Homo sapiens: one gene and its partner. The gene in region 1 interacts genetically with each later gene. Each region holds a gene or a part of one and is shown on either strand. Other genes may lie near its edges.

What was found. Genes that interact genetically often act in the same process or in processes that back each other up.
Region 2: changes in RRM2 (region 1) and ARID2 together harm fitness more than expected from each alone (negative genetic interaction), as found in Homo sapiens cells (one large-scale study listed by BioGRID).

Annotation. Positions count from the first base shown.
Region 1 is NC_000002.12:10,125,375-10,129,102, forward strand, and holds part of RRM2 (ribonucleoside-diphosphate reductase subunit M2), read left to right. Parts: intron 1-1,500; coding exon 1,501-1,595; intron 1,596-1,712; coding exon 1,713-1,846; intron 1,847-3,473; coding exon 3,474-3,578; intron 3,579-3,666; coding exon 3,667-3,728. UniProt on the Homo sapiens protein: Provides the precursors necessary for DNA synthesis. Catalyzes the biosynthesis of deoxyribonucleotides from the corresponding ribonucleotides. Inhibits Wnt signaling.
Region 2 is NC_000012.12:45,851,386-45,855,205, reverse strand, and holds part of ARID2 (AT-rich interactive domain-containing protein 2), read right to left. Parts: coding exon 2,310-3,820; intron 1,027-2,309; coding exon of another isoform or gene 969-1,026; intron 1-968. UniProt on the Homo sapiens protein: Involved in transcriptional activation and repression of select genes by chromatin remodeling (alteration of DNA-nucleosome topology). Required for the stability of the SWI/SNF chromatin remodeling complex SWI/SNF-B (PBAF).

The sequences.
Region 1 (3,728 bases):
GATTAGAAATGGGCTGCTGGAGTAGTCTAGATACAAAGGTCAGCTTTAGGGTGGCGCGCGGTGGTTCTCGCCTGTAATCCCAGCACTTTGGGAGGCTGAAGCGGGCGGACAATGAGGTCAGGAGATCGAGACCATCCTGGCTAACACGGTGAAACCCCGTCTCTACTAAAAATAAAAAAAGTGGTGGCGGGCGCCTGTAGTCCCAGCTGCTTGGGAGGCTGAGACAGGAGAATGGCGTGAACCCGGGAGGCGGAGCTTGCGCTCCAGCCTGGGTGACAGAGCAAGACTCCGTCTCAAAAAGCAAAACCAAGCAAAAAAAACAAAGGTCAGCTTTGGGGACCAGAACCTTGTATGGAGTGGAAGTGGTGAAGCTGCAACCTAAAGTAGCCGTTGTAGACTTTGAAGTACATGAAGAGGAAAAGTGGTAACTTGAAAGGACTGAGGAAACATTGGGAGTAAAGAGATTTGAACATGTTTATAGGTGGAAATTGAGAAAAGAAGGCAAAGATTAGGGGTACGATCGGGGGCAAATGCCCAGAAGGGGAACAGGAAGGTCTGCTGGGGAAGCCTCAAAAACAAGGGAGAGGCAGACCCAGGTCTCAGAGAGAGGGACAGTGAGATGGAAAGAATGAACGACAGCTGGGCATGGTAGTCTGAGCTAGTAGTCCCAGCTACTTGGCAGGCTGAGGCAGAAGGATGGCTTGAGCCCTGGAGTTTGGTTTTACCGTGAGCTGTGATCATCTCGCTGCACTCTAGCCTGGGCAACAGAGTGAGACCCTCATCTCTTTAAAAAAAAAAAAAAAAAAAAAAAAAAAAAAGCTGCCCAATGTCTGGTGCCCTTGGCTTCAGAACACAAAGTCATCTGGGTAGGAACAGTCTGGGAAATGAGTAGCCTCTCAAGGTGGGCACCAGAATAAAGGGAGGCAGAGGAGGGTGGTAAGGGAGATCCAGTTAACTGTAGTACCCATGGATTTGCTTTCCTGACCTGGGATCGACAGTGTAGCACAGAGTCCTAGTAGGAAGCAATCTTAGTTTATTGGTTTAATTATTTTATGATATAGGTGTGGCAACTGAGGCCAAATAATGCACCTAATCATAGTCTGATAATAGCACAGCAGTTAGGATTTTATGGTTCTTCAAATTTAAATTCTATGATTCTTCAAATTGAACAATGATCTGGACTTGAAATAATTTTAAAGGCAACAAATGTCCCTGCTGTACTGGACTATGTTTTACTGTCTGTAGACCCTGAAGCTCAATATGAACTACAGAATACCCAAACTTGTATTAATGTAAATCAAGTGTTGAGGTTTTTAAAAGAACACTGGAGGGAAAAACTGACCAGTAAAAATAAAACATTTCGGTGTGAGTTCTTCCTTTAGGAAGAGGATTGGCAAATACTTGAATTTGGCCTTTGTCCCAGAGCTCTTATCTAGCAGTTGGTAATCGGAGGTCTTTTACTGTAATGCTTCAATTGCTGATACCGTATGTGCCTACTAGGGAATTTCTCTTCAATGCCATTGAAACGATGCCTTGTGTCAAGAAGAAGGCAGACTGGGCCTTGCGCTGGATTGGGGACAAAGAGGCTACCTATGGTAAGGAGACCCTTGCCCCTACTTAAACCTGAGCTTCATTTTCCAAGTAATGTTACTGGATTTTTGGCCCTTGAATACCAACTCACTAGAATCATGTTGGTGTTAACTCCTAAATAGGTGAACGTGTTGTAGCCTTTGCTGCAGTGGAAGGCATTTTCTTTTCCGGTTCTTTTGCGTCGATATTCTGGCTCAAGAAACGAGGACTGATGCCTGGCCTCACATTTTCTAATGAACTTATTAGCAGAGATGAGGTGAGTCTAAGTCAAATAATAGGGTGACCTAAACCCCAAACACAACTCGGGCATGCTCTTGTGTTCACTGACGGGGACCTGAGATGCTAGATGGCATATATCCACATTTAATGTGTGAGTTCAACCATACACATACTTGACAAAAGAAGGAAATACTTTCATTTACTGAAACTGTTTTACTTGCATTCTCAATATATTGTAATACATTTGTACATATGTATTCCCCTATAGGCTTTGAATGCATAAAACTACAAGTTCTTTGTTTTTTGAGGTGACGGAATCTTGCTCTGTCGTTCCAGGCTGGAGTGCAATGGCGTGATCTTGGCTCACTGCAACCTCTGCCTCCTAGGTTCAAGTGATTCTCCCGCCTCAGCCTCCCAAGTAGCTGGGATTGTAGGTGCCTGCCACCATGCCCAGCTAATTTTCGTCTTTTTATACAGACGGGGTTTCACCATGTTTGCCAGACTGGGGTTGAACTCCTGACCTCAGGTGATCAGGTGATCCACCCGCCTCGGCCTCCCAGAGTGCTGGGATTATAGGCATGAGCCACCATGCCCAGCCAAAACTACAAGTTATTGATGGGATTGGGATTTTAAGGGATGTTTTATTATTTTTGCCTGGTATTAATATGTTATCCCTTTTTCCGTAAAAATGTTCATAGTAGAGCCAGGAGCGGTGGCTCATGCCTGTAATCCCAGCACTTTGGTAGGCCGAGGCGGGTGGATCATGAGGTCAGGAGATTGAGACCATCCTGGCTAACACGGTGAAACCCCATCTCTACTAAAAATACAAAAAATTAGCCGGGTATGGTGGACGTGCCTATTGTCCCAGCTACTTGAGAGGCTGAGGTAGGAGAATCGCCTGAACCTGGGAGGTGGAGGTTGCAGTGAGTCAAGATCACACCACTGCACTCCAGCCTGGGTGACAGTCCCCCCGAAAAAGAATGTTCATAGTAGCCATTATGTTTCTCCTGTTTGATCTAGAAATTGCCCCTCTACTTCAATATTAATAAGCATTTCAATGAAATGAGTATACATTTTGGTCTAGTGTATGTCTTTGATTAAGTCACATTTGAAAAGCCAGGAGCATGAACTCCATCTTACTTGGAGCCCAGTGGGCAAATCAAATATGGTTACCTTGTAGGAGGGCCTTCCTTACTGGATTGGGAGATAAGCTGTGAAGCTTGATGTTTAATGCAGTAACTTGCAAACTTGATTTACTTGAAATTGCATACAAATTTCCTGAGCATCTAAAAACTAGCCTTATTACTGAGCTTTGCCTTTCCTGCTGGGAGTAGTGGCAAAATTAGCACTCATGGCTGTAGAAAGATCACTGAGTGAAGCTCTGACTCCTCCTTTGCCAACACACAGCAGAGCAAGAAATACACCTTGCCTGTCTTCATCTAGGTGGCAACTTTGAGGGTCTTGAATGGGACTGAGCTTGCCTTGGTAGTGACATCAGCAGAGAAGTCAGTAGTTGAAGTCATCTTCCCTTTGAGAGTTCAAGTGCTCTCAGTATGGCTGAGCATGTTGGATAAGGAGAATGCAGAAAAGGACAAAGTAATTTCATATTCCATGTTAATGACAGAAGTCTTCTGGCTTTAGTGATCTTGAACTTTTTTTTCTAGGGTTTACACTGTGATTTTGCTTGCCTGATGTTCAAACACCTGGTACACAAACCATCGGAGGAGAGAGTAAGAGAAATAATTATCAATGCTGTTCGGATAGAACAGGTAAAGTGGGTGATGAAATGGGTCACTCAAGCTTGCTAGAAAATGCCTGTGCTTTAGTTGTATTCAGAAGCTGTATTTTGGTTCCTAGGAGTTCCTCACTGAGGCCTTGCCTGTGAAGCTCATTGGGATGAATTGCACTCTAATGAAGCA
Region 2 (3,820 bases), on another chromosome or scaffold:
TCCTAAAATTATCATTTAGTAGAACATCTCATAACACCACAGCTCAAATAACCAATGAGTTTTAGCAATAATGTCCTAAAATGATCATTTAATAGAACATCCTCTAACACAACAGCTCAAATAATCAATATGTTAGATTAAAAAAAGGCTCTCTAGAGCTTTATAGAGAAATCTTCTAGAACAGTGGAAAGAAGAAAGGTTAATGGGTTAAGAGCATGAGTTTTGGTTTCAGACAAACCCAGGTTTCTGTCCTGGTACCACCTCATATTAGTTGGTAACCTTGGGCAAGTTACTAGCCATCTTGAGTCCTCATCTTTATAATAAATTTTACCTAATAAGGTTGTGTGAGGATTAAATGAGAAACTGCTTTAGTATAAAGTCCCTATGACATGTCCTCGTCTTAGCTAGTATTATTGTTCATTCTTTGTAATTGTGATATTACTGACTACAACCACATTGGAAGATTAAGGGTACAAAAAATGAGTGTTGGTGAAACAATTCCATAATGATGGAGATGGAGTTTTTCTCTAATTTGGCTTGGTCTGTTATAACTATTTAGGATTGTAAAGGTCTCTAAGAGGAGTAACAGGCACATAATCAAGGTGAAGTGGGAAATTATTAAATATAAGAGAAAAAACCTAACTATGGAATATCTACTATATACTCCACATTGCACTAATTAAAAAATTGTGTTTAAGTGGAAAGCTCAACATGTGGAAGCTTGAATAAAAATGATACAGTATTTTCCATCAATAACTCAGGATTAATTATTGCCATGTATATAACATCCCTCAAAGCAGAAGTCTCCAATCTTTTTGGCACCAGGGACCGGTTTCATGGAGGACAATTTTTCCACAGACCAGGGAGTGAGGAGATGGTTTTGGGGTGATACAAGCGCATTACATTTATTAAGCACTTTATTTCTATTATTACACTGTAATATATAATGAAATAATTATACAACTTGCCATAATGTAGAATCATTGGGGGCTCTGAGCTTGTTTTCCTGCAACTTGACAGTCCCATCTGGGGAATGGGAGACAGTGACCGATCATCAGGCGTTAGATTCTCCTAAGGAGCGTGCAACCTAGATCCTTCGCATGCACAGTTCACGATAGGGCTTGTGGTCCTACGAGAATCTAATGCTGCCACTGATCTGACAGGAGACAGAGCTCAGGATATAACGTGAGTGATGGGAAGCGGCTGTAAGTAAATACAGATGAAGCTTCACTCGCTCACCTGCCGCTCACCTCCGGCTGTGTGGCCCAGTTCCTAAAGGGCCACGGACTGGTACCTGTCAGTTATTCTACTAGTTCTGAAGCAAGGGGCTCTTCCCTTTGTTCTTGTACTTTCCATTTGGCTATTGCCCACACCTAGATTTGGCACTAATGCCAACAATAGCCATATATCTGCTGTCATCACCGTAACCATACAGAAGCCCAAGCCAGAACTGTGTCAGCAGAGTTGGCAGTAGTCATAGAAGGTTCTGGCTATGTAGGAATTAGGAAGAACAGAGTGAAAGAAAAGTGATCCAGGAAACAGGTGGTGACGACTGTTAAGAGAATCCATGATTTCAGTGGAAAGAGCATATAAGATTGTCCTTAAAATCCTCATAGCCTGATTGGACCCTCAACTTGGTAGTGCTGATTTTAGAAAATACTTGTTTTTACTAAGGCATGCAGAGATGGAATCTTAGGCATTAAAAAGGGAATAGCAGGAATAGGACAGTAAAGCAAAGGAGTAAGAAACAGAAAAGAATATCAGAATATCTGAAACAAATTGAAATTACAATAAATAATACTTTTTAACACTAAAGGAGACTAATGCAATACATAAATACAAAAAGAATACGACTGATAAAGTTATTACAAGATTCATCCTTATTACAACAGTACTGTTAAAGAGGCAACAAAAACACACTCAGGTCAAAATCAAATACAGAAATCCCCATTTAGAGTACTCTTAGGACCCCCATTCCCCCCAACACTTGTGCAGTAAACTCAAAAAGGAGATTAAGATACATTTTTTAAATTCTCCAAAAGATGTCAGATTAGCAACTGCTTCTCTACCTTGGGCCTAGAAAATTATTAATTTGGATCTATAACAAAATTGAAAGATTCTTTAAATCATGTGCTAAAATTGAAAACTAATATTACAAAACCAGAGAAAAAGAAAAGGACAGGTTGGATACAAGTGAGCTGATACAGTAACTTTTCAAGATGAGACATGGAAAACAGTGCATTTCCCTCTAAAATTGTATTTACAGATCAGAAATTTCATAAGAGAAATGTGATCATGGAATAACTTACCTGCGGGACCACATTCTGTACATATGTTGGTGGATGCTGTTGCTTTTGCTGAACAGCACTTTCTATTGCTACTTTAGCTACAGTGCTTGGATCTGCTCCTGCTGGCACAGCAACCATTGTTGCGCTGCAGCCAGCATTGTTGGGGTCACTGATTGTAACAATTCTAACTCCTACTTTATTTGGAATTCCTGCGACTGTTTCCCTATCAGTATCCTCTGCTGGCCTCTTTACAGTTTTGCATTCTGCTGTGCCATTTGTAGACCGAACGTCAGATGATAGGGCAGGAGAATGGGATACTTTTGATCCTGAGTCGGGAACTGCTATGATTTGATGTCCCTGTATAACAGAGGTTGTAGAATGTGGTGAGACAACTACACTTGGGCGTTGCTGAGGCACATCTGAATTCAAACTTGAAGCTAGAGGTCCATTAAGCAAATCAGTACCACTAAATTGCTGTGTTGCCGCATTTGAAGCCTCCTGTATACTGCTCACAGATGAACCACCCAAAGTTAATACAGGTCCATTAGAAATTCTTTCTAGTTGATCACCTTTGGCAGTATCTTGCTGAGTGATATCTAAAGTCCCTTGTGGTTCCATTGGAGATATCTCACCATTTCCTACATGATTGGAAGTTTTATGATTTGGAATGTTTTTGCTTAAATGAGAACCATCTCCTTTATCAAAATCACAGATTCCATTAACTAGCGGTTTTCTCAAATCACTTTTGATATCTTGCATGTCTATTTGTTCTGAGTTCTGTTTCCCAGATGCTCCATTCTCACCTAATTCCAATGATGGCCCATTACTGATTAGTGAGCACTGATTAGTCTCACTTTGAATTTTCCCTGAGTTTGAAGGAGGTAGACTTGAGTCACTGTACTTTCTCCCATTTAAAAGACTTCCCACATGCATTTCATTTTCCTTTGTATCCCCATTGCTGGTGTTTGTGGCTCCTCGTCGGCAGGACGGGTTCTCCATGACTTCAATTTTACGTTCATGAACATGTAAACCTGTTGCTTCCTTTGCTTCCTCCTCCTTTTGGCAAATTATTTTATCACCTTTGAATGGGGGAGTAGCAGTAGTACATGATGATTGTCCAGCAGGAGATGCTTGAGTGGCTGGAAGCGTTTGTACTGGAAGTCCAACTCCTGTCTGCGTTCCGCTCATGGTAATTCCTGCTGGAGCAATGAGCTGAGTTGCATTTCCCTGACTCACAGTTGCAGGTGCAAAACTCGTATTTGGCACAACTGTTATGGTTACCTGGTTGCCAGAAGTCCCTTGGAAAATGGTTGCTGGGCTATTTGAGATCAGTGGACCTGGCAATATTTGTAAGTTCGAAATGGGCACAGTTTGTACTCCCCCTGAGGGTGGCATTGCACTTGGGACCAACTGAACATTTTGCTGCCCAACCAATAGCTGCTGAGCTGGAGTTTGCCCCTGCACTCCAAAACCTGCGGCTTGGTTACTGGCCACCTGATAGACCACCTGAGGGCTAGGAGCTCTTGCATTAT